Regions from separate parts of the Homo sapiens genome. Here region 2 is linked to region 1. Evidence: fine-mapped expression QTL. Tissue or cell type: whole blood. Region 1 holds a variant in brackets; the other region holds the start of a gene. All regions are shown on one strand. Distances are from middle to middle.

Evidence for each region. PIP is the estimated chance that this variant, and not a neighbour inherited with it, causes the effect.
Region 2: MGLL starts here. The variant in region 1 is fine-mapped to the expression of MGLL in whole blood (TOPMed, PIP above 0.99).

Annotation. Positions count from the first base shown.
Region 1 is chr3:127,698,669-127,706,668 of GRCh38, reverse strand. All of the region lies in intron 6 of MGLL (monoglyceride lipase), which reads left to right. Among named protein-coding and RNA genes, the nearest start is that of ABTB1, 30 kb to the right of the region's middle. RefSeq lists enhancers at 1-234, 3,449-3,743, 3,306-4,051, 4,052-4,799. The variant G/A (reference allele first, on the strand shown) is at 4,658.
Region 2 is chr3:127,819,079-127,827,200 of GRCh38, reverse strand. MGLL (monoglyceride lipase) reads left to right here and starts at 4,686. Exons shown (of 8, transcript NM_007283.7): 1 at 4,686-4,892; 2 at 5,363-5,507. The coding sequence starts at 4,883. RefSeq lists a silencer at 3,725-4,244.

The sequences.
Region 1 (8,000 bases):
ATTTGCAGCTAAAAATTTCCCAATGCCCTAAAAAAACAACAGGCACTAGAAAGTCTCTTGGGCATATGGCTCCATGTGGGGTGGTGGCGAGGGAGCGTGTGAATTGCTCTACGTTGCTTTTGCGCCCTGCACCACCCTCTGTAGATGTTCCAGCTCTGGACCCGCTCCCAGTCCCACTCCTGCCGGCCACCAAGGCTGGGAGAAACGGCTGTGAGCTCATGACAGGCAGATCCTGGAAGTATGATGCTTTAATGGCAGCAGAAAACCAGGGACTGCAGAGACTGTCAGGGAAGCCACAGCTGCCAGCAAAATACAGGACACACTGAGGAGTTCTCTGTGTCCAGCAGGCCCAACTGAGCTTCTTTCTCAGTACCTTTGTGGGTACGTGGGACATGCACATAGTAGGGCCTTGGCAGTGGAGGAAAGAAAGATGTGGGCTCAGTTGGGCTTCCGTGGGAACATAGCCTGGGCAAAGCTCTCTCAAAGACACCTCTCAGCTGTTGTGAATAACGCTGCTGTGCCCGTGGCGGTGCAGATATCTACTCCAGACCCTGCTTCCATTCTTTTGGGTATGTATGTACCCAGAAGTGGGATTGCTGGGTCATATTCTGCTGGTAATTTTGGAGGAACCATGCTGCCATTTTCCACGGTGGCTGTGCCATTTCACATTCTCACCAACAGTGCTCAAGGGTTCCAGTGTCCCTACATCCTCGCCAACACTAGTTAGGTTGTGTTTTTTGATAGTAGCCATCCTAATGGGTATGGAGTGGCATCTCAGTGTGGCTTTGATTTCTATTTCCCTAATGGTTAGTGATGCTGAGTGTCTTTTCATGTGATTTTTGGATATTTGTATGTTGTCTTCTTCTTCTTCTTCTTCTTTTTTTTTTTTTTTGAGATGGAGTTTCTCTCTCGTCGCCCAGGCTGGAGTGCAGTGGCGCGATCTTGGCTTACCACAACCTCCACCTCCCAGATTCAAGCGATTCTCCTGCCTCAGCCTCCTGAGTAGCTGGGATTACAGGCGCGTGCCACCACACCAGGCTAATTTCATATTTTTAGTAGAGACGGGGTTTCTCCATGGTGGTCAGGCTAGTCTCGAACTCCTGACCTCAGGTGATCAGCCCGCCTCAGCCTCCCAAAGTGCTGGGATTACAGGTGTGAGCCACTGCACTGGGACCTTGTATGTCTTCTTTAGAGAAATGTTTGTTCAGATCCTTTGCCCATTTCTTTTCTTTTTCCTATTTCTTGTCTATTGTTTTTCTTTTTCTTTTTTTTTTAGTTTAATTTAATTTTAAGTTCCAGGATACATACGCAGGATGTGCAGGTTTGTTACATAGGTAAACATGTGCCATGGTGGTTTACTGCACCCAGCAACCCATCACCTAGGTATTAAGCCCCACATGCATTAGCTATTTATCCTGATGCTCTCCCTCCCCCCGTGCCCCTCCTCCTGACAGGCCCCAGTGTGTATTGTTCCCCTCCCTGTGTCCATATGTTCTCATTGTTCAGCTCCCATTTATAAGTGAGAACATGTGGTGTTTGGTTTTCAGTTCCTGCGTTAGTTTGCTGAGGATAATGGCTTCCAGCTTCACCCACGTCCCTGCAAAGGACATGATCTTGTTCCTTTTTATGGCTGCATAGTATTCCATGATGTATATGTACCACATTTTCTTTATCCAGTCTATCATTGATGGGTATTTGGGTTGATTCCATGTCTTTGCTATTGTGAGTAGTGCTACAATAAACATACGTGTGCATGTATCTTTATAATAGAATGATTTATATTCCTTTGGGTGTATACCCAGTAATACCCAAAGGGATTGCTGGGTCAAATGGGGTTTCTGTTGTCTTCCACGATGGTTGAACTAATTTACATTCTCACCAACAATGTAAAAGTGTTCCTATTTCTCCACAGCCTCACCAGCAACTGTTGTTTCTTGACTTTTTAATGATCACCATTCTGACTGGCGTGAGATGGTATCTCATTGTGGTTTTGATTTGCATTTCTCTGATGATCGGTGATGTTGAGCTTTTTTTCATGTGTTTCTTGGCCACATAAATGTCTTCTTTTGAAAAGTGTCTATTCATATCCTTTGCCCATTATTGATGGGGTTGTTTTTTTCTTGCAAATTTGTTTAAATTCCTTGTAGATTCTGGATATTAGACCTTTGTCAGGTGGATAGATTGTAAAAATTTTCTCCTATTCTGTAGGTTGTCTGTTCACTCTAATGATAGTTTCTTTTGCTGTGCAGAAGCCCTTTCTGTGCAGAAGCTCTTTAGTTTAATTAGATACCATTTGTTAATTTTTGTTTTTGTTGCACTTGGTGTTGACATTTTCATCATGAAATCTTTGCCCGTGCCTAAGTCCTGAATGGTATTGCCTAGATTTTCTTCTAGGGATTTTATAGTTTTGGGTTTTACATTTAAGTCTTTAATCCACCTTGAGTTAATTTTTGTATATGGTGTAAGGAAGGGGTCCAGTTTAAATTTTCTGCATATGGCTAGCCAGTTTTCCCAGCACTGTTTATTAAATAGGGAGTCCTTCCCCCATTGCTTGTTTTCATCAGGTTTGTTAAAGATCAGATGGTTGTAGATATGCAGTCTTATTTCTGAGATCTCCATTCTGTTCCATTGGTTATATGTCTGTTTGTGTACCAGTGCCATGCTGTTTTGGTTACTGTAGTCTTGGAATGTAGTTTGAAGTTAGGTAGCATGATTCCTCCAGCTTTATTCTTTTTGCCTAGGATTGTCTGGCCCATCGTTTGCTTTGCTCATTTCCTAATTGGGTTGTTTGTTATTTGTTGTTAAGTTGCAGGAGTTCTGTATATGTTCTGGATATTAACCCCTTATGTGGATATTAACCACATATACAAATATAATTCGCAAGTATTTTCTCCTATTCTGTGGGCTGCCTTTTCCCTCTGCTGATAATGTACTCTGAAGCATAAGGGTTTTTTTCTTTCTGATGTAGTCCAGTTTATCTGTTTTTCTTTTGTTGCCTGTGCTTTTGGTGTCATATCCAAGAAGTTGTTGCCAAATCCAATGTCATGAAGTGGATACCTTGTTTTGGCTGAACCATGTGAAAGTAAACTGCAGACACCACGATCCTGAATGCGCCTGAATACTTCCGCCTGGGTTGCCCAAGAGGAAGGACTCAAAACAGAGGCTTTCACACAGGACCCCATGCCATTATCACATTTAGGAAAAGTAACAGTCATTCCCCCTTGTTGTCCTCGATCTAATCCATGCTCCAGTTTCCACAGTTGTCACCATTTAAGACTTGAGACTGCATGATTTTGCTGTTCTGTGATCAGCAGTTATGAAAGTGGTCCTGCAAGACCTGGGAATTCTTTCTTGTTTCTCTTATTATTCCTCAAATCCCTGAGCCTGTGAGAAGGCAGAGAATGTGGTGGCTGCTTTTTCCTTTCCCTTGGTGGTCACCTAGGAGCACTTCTGTGTTCAGAGCCACATTCCAGGGCCCTCCATTCCAAAGGACAGAAAGAGGTTGACTTTTTGCATCACTTCTGGTTGTGAAGACTCTGAAGCCCTGCAGAAGGAATCCTGGGGGAGGAGACAGTGGTGGGGCGGGGCTATGCAAACAGCTCTCCCCATTTGCCGGGGCTGCGACCTGCAGAGCCATTCCTACCTCACTGCTCTTAAAAGTGGATGCTAGGGCTGGATGGACGCGGTGGCTCATGCCTGTAATCCCAGCAATTTGGGAGGCCGAGGTGGGCAGATCACCTGAGGTCAGGAGTTCGAGACCAGCCTGGCCAACATGGTGAAACCCCGTCTTTATTAAAAATACAAAAATTAGCAGGGCATGGTGGCGTGTGCCTGTAATCCCAGCTACTCGGGAGGCTGAGGCAGGAGAATCATTTGAACCTGGGAGGCAGAGGTTGCAGTGAGCCAAGATCGCACCACTGCACTCCAGCCTGGGCGACAAGAGCGAGACTCCATCTCAAAAACAAACAAACAAACAGATGCCAGGATGTCCAGGAGTTCAAACCTTCATACTAAAAAGTAATTTGGCGGAAAGAATGCTCATTAATTTGCATACCCTTGATTAAGTGGCAACTCAGAATTGTAGGCTGATCCTTGATTATCCTCTTTCTGTCCAAAATGGCACTGCAGCTTCCAGGAGAGGAGAATGTGGAGCAACATCTTCTTTCCAAATGGCCCTGATCTGGTTCAGGAATTTCAGCCACTGAGGCTGGGCGCCAGCTGGGGCTGGCCCAAGGCAGGGTAAGGTCACTGTGGGGACTCAGGCCTCCTGGTAGGCAGGGCTTGCTTGGGTCTATCGAGCCGGGGAAGCTTTCTGCTGAGTCAGGCAGGGCCTATCTCCCCTCTGCCACCCTGCAGGCAGCTCACCACACCAACAAACTTTCTCAGGGTTCCCACTCCAGCCAGGCTAGAGCTGGAGGCTGTGACACCCCATGAGTTGCCCTGTTGTCCCTGCCAGCCAGGCCCATCAACTGCAGTGGCCCAGAGGGGAAAGAGGCGGTAGGCTCAGTGGGAAGAGCACAGGCTTCCAAAAGGACCTGAGTCTGGACCCCGCTCCATCTCCTCAGTGTGACCTTGGAAGCCACACTCAGTCTTGCCCTTCCTCAGATCCCTCCAGATGACTGCACAGCCACCTAGCACAGTGTGGACCCTAGCAGGT[G/A]AGAGCTGTTGCTATCACAGCTCTGAGAGAGGCCCACTGAAGGAGGTGCTGGTGAAGATACAGGAGCCTGGGGAGAGAAGCATGGATGTTGGCGAGGGTGTCTGGGCACCTGTCCACAGGAGGAAATGCTTAACCTGGGCTTTGAAGAGAAGGAACAGGGTTGCTGGCAGATAAGAGAAAGGCCGTGGAAGGGGATGGTGGAAACGGAGATATCGGGGCCAGTCTGTAGTGCAGACGACAAGCACATGAGGAAAGGGGTCTGGGGATGACACACACGGGACCGGGGAAGGCTGCCTGCAGGAAGGGCAGCTGAGCCGAGGGTTGATAGGGAGGGAGAAACTCCACAGGCAGCCAAGGAAGGGGTCTGAAGGCTGAGGGGACATGCTGTGCAAGGGCCCTGGGGTCAAGGGGAGTGGGGAGTGTTAAGGGAGGGCAGGGATGGAGGTGTCCCAGGCCATACCAAGAAGTTAGGACTTTGCCCTGCAGCCCCCATGGGAAGCACCACAGGGTTCTTCACAGAGGGAGACAGGTACAGATCTGTGAGTCTGAAATGGGACTTATCTCTGCGTGACAGGGACCCAATGCCGTGAGCCCTCTGGGGGCTGACAGCAGTGGCCAGGGTGCTACAGGCTTGGGAGGGAATGTGTGGGAGAGGAAGCACGCCATGGCCACGCCAAGCACAGCTGTTTCCAGCCTTCAGCATGTTCCAAATTCAGGCCAACTTCCACAGGACATTGACGTTGTTTTTTTTGTTGTTGCTATTGTTGTTGGTGGTGGCTTTTTTTTTTTTTTTTTTGGAGGCAGGGTCTCGCTCTCTTGCCCAGGCTGGAGTGCAGTGGCGTGATCTCAGCTCACTGCAGCCTCCACCTTTTGGGCCCAAGCAATCCTCCCACCTCAGCCCCCGCAGTAGCTGGGACTACAGGTGTGCACCACTATACCAGGCTAATTTTTGTATTTTTTGTAGAGATGGGGTTTTACCATGTTGCCCAGGCTGGTTCTGAATTCCTGGGCCCAAGTGATCTGCCCACCTTGTCCTCCCAAAGTGCTGGGATTACAGGCATGCACCACCGTGCCCAGGCTACGGTACATTCTTATTTGCGTTTAGGATATTCCATAGGCCTGGGGTTCAGCACAATGCACTGAAGGAAAGCAATGCCAAGCGGCTCCAAAAGCAAGCTATCGGGGCTTTCCACGTGTGCACGCAGAAAGGCCATTCACTGAATGAAATGACAAGGGCCTCCCCTTTCGAGGGTCCTAAGTCTCATTCCCATTGTGGACACTGTCTTGGCCAGCAGGTGGCCAGCGGTTGCCAGCTGCCGTGAGGTCTGTGCTGGCCTCTCAGTACCCAAAGGTGCTACTTCTTGGGCTGGATTAGGGAATGGTTTGCTTATTCATCCATTGCACCAGAGTTTACCAAAGGCTTCCCCTGTGCCAGCCACCGTGCAGGCCATGCAGAGGACAGGACAGACAGAGCCCTGACCCTCACGTGGGGCAGACATGTGGGAAGAGATGTGCTGATTGCAGACCAGGCCAAGTGAGGCATGGGAGAAGGGTTTTGGGGCAGCAGAGTCTGTGGGGGTCTGGGAAGGCTGAGCTGAGGCCTGAAAGCGGAGTAGACAATGTTAATTAAGCTAAGAGCAAGGGGCTGAAAAGCTGTTTGTGATGGGAGACAGAAGCCATCACAGGAGGATTCTCTCATCCAGCTCTTTCCACCACAAATTATGTCTCCGGCCATTCAAGACAAAGGTGGGAAATGAGGACATCGTCTCTGCAAAGACTTGCCAGTTTTTGTTAGGGTTCCTGCAGGTTTCTAAATTTCACAGAGATCACTCAGGTAGAGTGTCATGCACTCTTTCTCTATTATGCCAGAGAAGGCTATCCGAGTTCCCTGTATTGGAAATGGATGGATTAAGAGAGATCTAAACAATGGAGGAAGAAGGTGGGAATTCCAGGATGGGCTCTAAAGCCCAGGTGGAAGGGTGACGCTTCCGTAGGAAAAGGGAGGAGATTGCAGGGAAGGAGGGGCAGGAAGAGCCAGCTGTGGACAGATCTACAGGGATGAAGCCTGCTGGGTTGTATTTCTCTGTGATTAGGGGTGCATCCAGGAGGGCACATGCCTGTCTGTGCCCAGAAGGGCTCCCCTATCCCCTCTGGCTGGCTGTGAAGGGCGGTAACCCCTGGGCCCCACCAGATCACTTCACCATCTGTCAGGCCCATCTGCTTATGGTCCTCATCAGGGACCATTCCTGCCTTTTCTGAGAGCACTAGTGCCCCTGCCACCTGCATAGCTCCTGGCTGTCTATGCCCCAGCACTGACCTTCACCTTCTCCTCTCGAGACAGGCAGCAGAGCATGGTAAGTGGCTAAGAATGCTGATGGCAGTGGCAGAGTGCCTAGGTTCTTACCTTGGCTCTGCCTCTTGCTGTGTAACCTTGGGTGAGTCATCTAACCTCTCTGAGCTTGTCTCCTCATATGTAAAAAGGTAATAATAATAGTTCCTACATCACAGGGTTCCTGTGAAGATTAAATGAGCAAGTGCGAGTGAAGCACTTACTACAGCACCTAGTAAAGAGTCAAGGGCTCCACGCATTAGTTATTTTTCATAGTATTCTAATTAAACTCTGATATTGCATTTCATCATGGAACAATTTAAAAAAAAAATGGGTCAAGAGATTTGACTGCAGGGGTTGTGTCTAGATTTTGCTCAAACGTAAGTGTAAGAAAACTCCCAGCTGAGGATTGCAGCTGTATTTACTGTACTTCAGTGCAAAGTTTCTTCCCACAGAGAGACAGTGCTGGAAATTCAGAAGACCCAGCTGGTATATTCCTGGCTGTCAAGCTCAACAGGAGGCCAGCTTGTGAAACTTAAAACCCAAGAGGAGGCTTTGGGGTCCCCTGATGGGGAAACTGAGGCCCAGGAAGGCGTAGAGCCTTACCATACTCCCAACCCCCACCCCGGGGAAAAAAAGACTTCAACTCTCAGCCAGTGGGGGCTCCCCAGGAAATCAGTTATCTAGAGCCATGGTGGGGGTGGTCACTTGGACCTGGGTCCCCAGCTTGGGCTCCTGCTTCCAGCTGCCATGTCCCCAGCAGACCCTGGTCTCAGCTGGTGGGAGCCATGGTGAGCCAAACAGGAAGGTGGCGGTGTGAGAGACTGTGCCAAAGCCTGGGCCTTTGTTACTTGTTCTTAGTTAAATTTTTCATTTAAGATCACTGTAACTCACAAGCAGCTATAAGAAATAATACAGAGCGATTCCATGTACCCATTACCCAGTTTCCCCCAGCAGTGACATTTTGCAAAACGACAGGACAATATCACAACCAGGATACTGACCTTGACACAG
Region 2 (8,122 bases), 120 kb before region 1:
AATTTCAAGATTTATAGAGAACTTCAATAATCAAGACTGTGTGGTATTGGTGGAGGAATAGACACAGACCAAAGAAACAAAAGAGAGAACCCAGAAATAGACCTGTACAAGCAGGCAGCTGAATTTTACAAAAGTGCAAAAGCAATTCAGTGGAGGAAAGGCAGCCTTTTCAACAAACTGTGCTGGAGCAATGGGACATGTAGAGACAAATGAACCTTGATCTAAATCTCACACTCCAGACAAAAAGTAACTCAAAATAGCTTACAGACTTAAGCATAAAATGTAAATCTATACAACTTTTAGAGAAAAACACAGGAGAAAATCTCTTGAGGTAGGACTACACAGAGTTCTTAGACTTGACACCAAATGCATAATCCATAAAACAAAAAATTGATAAATTGTTTCTGATCAAAATGAAAACTTTTGCTCTGCAAAAGACCTTGTTAAAAGGATTAAAAGACAAGCTACAGACTGGAAGAAAATATTTGCAATCACACATCTAGTATCTAGTAGACTAATGTCTAGAATATACCAAGAACTCTCAAAACTCAACAGTAAGAAAACAACAAGCAAACAATTAAAAAATAGCCAAAGGCTGCAATGAACGGAGATCGTACCAACGCACTCCAGACTGGGTGACAGAACGAGACCCTGTCTCAAAAAAAAGAAAAAAGAAAAGAAAAGAAAGAAAGAAAATAGCCTAAAGGATGGGCGTGGTGGCTCATGCCTGTAATTCCAGCACTTTGGGAGGCTGAGGCCGGTCAGATCGCCTGAGCTCAGGAATTTGAGACCACCCTGGGCAACATGATGAAACCCCGTCTCTACTAAAATACAAAAAGTTAGCCAGGTGTGGTGGCCTGCACCTGTAGTCCCAGCTACTAGGGAGGCTGAGGCATGAGAATTGTTTGAGCCTGGGAGGTGGAGGTTGCAATGAAACAAGATGGCGCCACTGCACTTCAGCTTGGGCTACAGAGTGAGGCTCAGTCTCAAAAAAAAAAAAAAAAAAAGGGGGGTGGGGGGCAAGAAAATAGCCGAAAGACAAGAAAAGACATTTTACTGAATGGGATATATAGATGGCAAATACGCACATGAAACAACATTAGCCATTAGGCAAAAGCAAATTAAAAACCACAGTGAAATATCATCACTACACACTTAACAGAAAGACTAAAATTTTTAAAATGGTGACAACACTACATGCTGACATGAATGCTGAGAGACTGGTTCTCTCCTACACTGCTGGTAGGAATGTAAAATGCTACAGTCACTCTGGAAAACATTTTGGCATTCTCTTTAAAAACTTGCAATTTCCCTACAGCTCAGCAATTGCACTCCTGGGCCCTCATCTCAGAGAATGAAGACTTAGGTTCACACAAAAACATGTACACGGAGGTTTACAGCAGCTTTATTCTTAATCAACAAACACTGGAAACAACGCAGATATCCTTCAGCAGATGACCTGTTAGACACACTGTGGTACTTCCATACTGTGGACTGCTACACCCAACCCACCTGGAATTATGCTGAATGAAAAGGTGAATCCTAGAGGTTATGTACTTTATGATTCTATTCATAAAATATCCTTGAAATGACAAAATTTTAGAAATGGAGAACAAATTAGCAGTTGCCAGGGGTTCTAGGGGAGTGAGGATGAGAGGGAAGTGGATGTGGCTATAAAAGCATACCACTTTGTGGGGTAGAGACGTTCTGTAGCTTGACTACAGATATTCTATCAGTGTCAGTATCCTGTTGTGATATTTACTGTGGTTTGTGAGAAGTTGCCATTGCAGGAAACTGAGTAAAGGGCACATAGCATCTCTCTTTATTATTTGTTACAACTGCATGCGAATCTACAATTATCTCAGAATAAGTTTAATTAAAAGAAAAAGCCAGATACAGAACAATACGATCTGTCTCTTAACTCCCAAATTCCCAGTTGGCTGGCCACACACCACAGTCTCAGTTCTGTCCATAACCAAGTTTGGGGGATCTCTTCAAGTTTGCAAATGTCACTTCTACTGAGATCCCTCTGACAACTTCAGTGAAGTCTCTCCTCAAAGCTTTTTTTTTTTTTTTTTTTTTTTGAGACAGAGCCTTGCTCTGTCGCTCAGGCTGGAGTGCAATCACTGCAACCTCTGTCTCCCGGGTTCAAGCGATTCTCCTGCCTCAGCCTCCCGAGTAGCTGGGATTACAGGTGCCCGCTACCATGCCCAGCTAATTTTTGTATTTTTAGTAGAGATGGGGTTTCACCATGTTGGTCAGGCTGGTCTCCAGCTCCTGACCTCAGATGATCCACCTGCCTGGCCTCCCAAAGGACTGGGATTACAGGCGTGAGCCACTGAGCCCGGCCTCTCCTCCAAATTTTCAAGCTGTGTATTTTAAATCATAAAATGTTAGAGCCAGGAACATTTGAAATAATGCCTTGATAAAAGCGTCCATCAGACCCCCGAGCACCCTTCCTTTCCATGAATTATAACCAACGGAAATCCGGTGCACTTAGCATGTCCAGCTTTGAGTGAAGCCCCCAAGCTTCCTGCCCCTGAGACTGCCGCCCCTAAACCTCTCTTGCATGGATTCTGTAGAGCTGCCCCGACCAGAAGTCACTTAGCCACTCCTCTGCTCCAGGCCTCGTGGCCTGCTGGAGGCCAGACAGTGGGTAAGTCACGCTCAGCAGTGCCTACAACTCAAGCCACTGCTCAAAGGCTGTTGTTTTATTTCTCAAGTTAGACCACAGGCTCTGTAGCAACTTGGGCCTCCTTGGACACACACAGTGTGACGCTGAGACACAGTCCTCAACGCTGCTATGGTGTAGAATTTTTTGCGGAGAAAGACAGGAAGGCCTCTTGAGGTCAGTGTGAGACAGGGACACTCCACTGGGGCATAGGTATATCACTCACAGGTTGAAGGTAGGTAGACTGAGGCTCAAAGAGCAAGCGGAGGAGCTAATGTTCAACCCAGGTGGTGTGGAGTCTCAGTCCAGTGGCCTTACCCTCCACGGCCACGTTGCTAGTTATACTGGACAGAGCTCAGACTGTGCCCTGGCCTGTGTAGATGCACCAGAGGTTTTATCTGGGGGTCACAGCCGCTGGGAACGGGAGAGTTGCTGGGGATTGCCAGGAAGGGACAAGGCATTTGTAGCCATGCACCATCTGCTTTTACACTACCCTAGAGTCAAGTGGACCCCCTCCAGCATTTTTTTTTCCCCGAGATGGAGTCTCACTCTGTCACCCAGGCTGAAGTGCAATGGTGTGGTATCGGCTCACTGCAACCTCTGCCTCCCGGGTTCAAGCGATTCTCCTGAGTAGCTGGGACTACAGGCGCATGCCACCACGACCGGTTAATTGCCCCTCCAGCATTGTATGTGTCTGACTGCAATGAAGTGTGAGTGTGTCTGTGTGCGACTGTGTGTGTATGATGTGAGTGTGTCTGTGTCTATGTGGGGGCCAGGTGTATAGTCTGCATATGTCTGTGCACCTCTGTGTCTCTGTGGGTTGTCTGTGCCTATGTCTCGGCTTGTGTGTGTGCATGCATGTGTGGTCTGTGTGTGTCTGTATGCATGTGGTATCTCTGGGATGTGTGTCTGTATGTCCCTGCGTGCAGTGTAGTGACTTTGGGAGTGCACATGTGTACACGTGTGGTGAGTGTGCGGCCCTGCGCGAGTTGTCTGTGTACGTGTGGTGCCTGTGGGTCTGTGTGCGCGCGTGTGCCCGTGGGTGTGGTGTGTCCTCCCGCGCTGAGGCTCCCATGAACCCAGCTCAGTTCAGGCCTCCCTGACAGTCCTCGGGCGGCCACCCCGGGGCGCGGCTGTCCACGAGGCGCGGAGGAGAGGAGTGCGTGGCTGGGTCGGCGGGCGGCGCCCCCGCTCCTCCCCGCGGGCCGGGCACACGTGGGCCCCGGGCGCCGCCTCCCCGCGCCGCCCGCCGCCCGCCGGGTCCCGCGCGTCCCCACCCACCTCGGGCCGCCCCCGCCGCCGAGCCGGCCCAGGGATAAAGTGGCGGCGCAGACGCCGCACCCTGTCGCCGCGAAGCCGGTCGCGCGCAGCTCGTCCCGGCCCTGGCCCGCCGCAAACGAGGATCCGCTGCGCTCGGGGAACGCGACAGCGGCGCTCGTGGCCCCGGTAACTGCCTCCCGGCCCCTGCCCCAGCCCGCCAGTGCCGCCGTCAGGGGTGGGGAGCAGCACTGGGGTCCCGGACACGCCCGGCGTGGGCTCCCGCTACCCATGTGTGCGTGTGTGTGTGTGCACGGTGTGTGTGCGCGCGTGTCCGAGTGTGCGCGCGTGTGCGCGCGCGCGCGCCCTCCCTGCTCCTTCGCACCAGCCCCCAAACCAACTTGTCCCCATCAACTCCATCTTTCTAGTCCCCACCTTCCCCGGTGCAGACACCCGGCGAAGCCCACCCGGTTTTCCCAGCGGCATTTCCGATGACAGCTTCGGGGCTACGTGTCCTGTGCTGTCGGAGACGCACAGGAAGCAAAGTTTGTGAGAAGCCTTGGGGGCGACTTTGCCTTGGGCACCCGCATTTGTGCGTCTGCGAGGTGCCTCGGTGTGCGCGGAGCTAGTTTCCCAGTTTCCCGGGCCCCTCCCTTCTCCGAGCCCCTCTAGCGATTTGTTTAGGAAAAGTGATGACATGAACTAGTAGTGGAGAATCGCAGCGCCGCTCCCCGCCCTGGGGAGGGAGGGGAGCCCCGGAGAGCCTGCCGGTGGGAGCTGGAAGCAGGCTCCCGGCTGAGCGCCCCAGCCCGAAAGGCAGGGTCTGGGTGCGGGAAGAGGGCTCGGAGCTGCCTTCCTGCTGCCTTGGGGCCGCCCAGATGAGGGAACAGCCCGATTTGCCTGGTTCTGATTCTCCAGGCTGTCGTGGTTGTGGAATGCAAACGCCAGCACATAATGGAAACAGGTTTGTCATGTATCCTTGGAATTTCAGATGGGAGGAATAATCTGAGTATCATCCACCTCATTATTGTGCCCACTTGAAACTGTTCCTTGGAGATTTTAAGATAGATGGGTCTTCTTGCAGCTGGGTCTTTGTACCCATAGAGCTGACTATAATTTCCACTTGATTACAGCTAAAATAGTCTTTAAGATGAAGTTTCCTGAAATGATTTAAAATAAACACAGATGGGAAGGGGGAAAAACTGTAATGAGGCACTTAAAAAATAAAGTGAGCATTTTCTTAAGAACAAATGGGATTTTTCAGTCTTGGAGAGGTTTGCAAGAAATGTATGTATGTTTTAAACCTTTGAAACAGAGGGGTTTTTTAAACTGCTTTTAAAAAAATGTTACTGACTCTGAACTAGACTTTTCTCTCCTATCCATACATGTTCTTGAGATATTTCTGACTTTGGAATATGTCACTTTTCCTTCTAGGACCTGAAGACCCTTCCAGCATGCCAGAGGAAAGTTCCCCCAGGCGGACCCCGCAGAGCATTCCCTACCAGGACCTCCCTCACCTGGTCAATGCAGACGGACAGTACCTCTTCTGCAGGTACTGGAAACCCACAGGCACACCCAAGTAAGTCTTCCCCAGAAAGTCACCCCAGGTGACAGGGGAGCATGGCCCCTGCTTCTCCTCTGGTCGTTATCATGTGCCATCTGGGGCGGGGCCGCTTTCTCTATGACCTACTTCCCCTGCCGTTTTAATGTTAGGCTGAGCAATGTTAACAAAGCTAAAATGTATACTTTATAATTTTTAAATTTAAGAAGCAGGAATTCTTTTTTCATTATAACAACTCAGATATGGATCCTACCGTATGGCAATTTTCAAAAATTCCACATGACTTTATTTTTTGTACTGGAGTTGATTTCCGGTTGTACAGGCATTCATTTAAAATCAAACCCGACAATTAAGGAAAATCCCCTAGATGGATGAGAAACCCGAAGTAATACATATATCTTCACCTTTGCTCACTTTTCCTGCTTGTTTCTGAGCTTCTGAAGATGGCATACATGTGTCACCAGGAAGAAAGGGGCCTGGGTATTTCCTTCTGATTCCTTGCCAGCTCAATTACTTTGTACATTTTCCATCAAGGATTTGTCTTGCTATTAGAAGCAAACATTGGGACTATACACAAGACAGCTGGTCTCCTGCTGCTGCTCCCTCCTCTTGGATGAAGCAGGAAAACCCTGCTTGTTTGTGTTATTTGGAAAAAGAATTTATTTGTGGTAACCAATTGGCCTGGTGACAAGAACATTTCCTGTTCCAGGGACATTTTACCTGTTTTGTAGGCCTCTTGTCTCCTAGGGATCATTGTGTGGTTGGATTATGTCTCTCTTTGTGCTCCAGTAATCACCCAACCCTCACACAGGTGTAAAATTTCTTCTCTGTCTTCATCAAGGTATCTATGATCCAGGGAGCTGCACGTTAAAAACACAGAGATATGGACTTTTAAAACCCGGCATAGAGTCATAGCTTCAGGGCAGCTACACAGACTGGCTATGGTTTCTCTCTAGTGTTTTCAAGTGGGTAACGTGCTGAGAAGAGTTCCTACCAGTTCTGGTAATACATTTCTTAAAGAATGTGTCTGTACGTGCATACGCATTAGAGGAAGTGGGGGGGTTGTTGAGCATTATGATGCTAATTAATCATTAATTCTCCACTCTGACTTAACTGGCTGTAGAATTGCTCAATCTTGGATTAATTTCTAACAGATTAGTGGTTTGTGGTAATTTGATCAATATACAGAAAGAAGACAAATAATTGAAAATAGAAGTTTTTAATGTCTGAGTCTCAGACTTGGGGGGCTTTGTTGGTTAAGTAGTGAGGTTGTCCTAGTTCGAAGTCAACAAAAATAAAGAGGTTCTGCAGTCCTGGCACAGGGGGAGGGTGGTGGGTGAGTGGGTTAGAAACGGTCAAGTTGGCTGCCCTGCCCTCCCTTCGCCTGCGGGTGGTTTTCACAATCTCTGTGCTGAAGTTGCATTGCAGGGAGCCCTCTCTGCTCCGTTGCTTTTGCTCTAGTTAGAGATGATAACTCAACTTCTTAATTTAAACTGAGCTGCCTCTTGGATGTCAGCGTCCGCCTTGTGGTGGGTGCTGATGGGCTTAAGAACAGAGGTGGATGGTTGAGGCAGTTCGGCCCCAGAATTTGGAAGAAACCTATGGGTCTAGAAAAGGTTAAGGGAAAAAAATATTGAGGGCAGGAGCACTGAAATAGAAAGAGCAACAGAACCATGAGCATGTATGAACACTTTCCATAGTGTTATCCTCAGTTTACCAAAGAGGAAGGGGCTGGCCAAGGTCCTACCTACCTGTCCTGCCCTGCCTCCAGCCCCTGGAGATGATGCAGAGGTCCTGGAGGCCCCTTGCCATGACTCATGTTAACCCTGTGCTTGCTGGATCTTGGGGCAGTCTTGGGGGTCCTAGGGTGGGGGCTCAGGGCAGAGGTTTGTGCCAGCCAGCATGAAACACCTCTGTATCTTCATAACCGAGACCAGCTGCTCAGCCTGCCTGCCCTCTTGCATGATCTGGGAGACCCCCGCAGCATCATTATAATAAGTATTATTATTATTGCCTGCACAGAATCATTCACTCTGCTTTTAGGAAGAGGGAGGGGACCTCAAGTCACCAGGGCTTCAATCTTTCCCCCCAGGCTTTTTACCCCTCTTCAGCAAAACTAGGGCCTCGCTTTGTGCAATCCTGTCTCCTCCCAGTTAGGAAGAAAGAAGGGAGGAAAAGCAAGGGGCAAAAAAAGAGGAGACTGAACCCTCCCCCACTACTGTACCAACTGTGGGCAAAACCTGGGTTAAGAGCACCTCATCTCCAGCCCCGCCTCTGCTATCTTTCTCATAGAGACCCTAGGGACCTCAGAAGCCACCCCGGGGGCCTGTGGATATCTTATTATGCAGAAGGATCTGTGCCAGCCTCGGTTAGTCAGTACTGGTTTGGGTAGATTTTCTGGCCAACCAGTTACCTCCAGCTCCTGGAGCCTGCCGTGAGCACCTACAGAGACATATTGCCCCCAGAGGACCTGCTGGGTTCCAAGACTGGCTCTGCAGGTGGCTCGGAGCAACACTAAGCCACAGGTGTCAGCCGCTGCACTGGGAACCTGGCTTAACCCGCTTTATGCAAGCAAATTCTGTCGTATAAACACCAGCCTCCTCGGACTGGACCCTGAGAAAGAGAAAGCATGT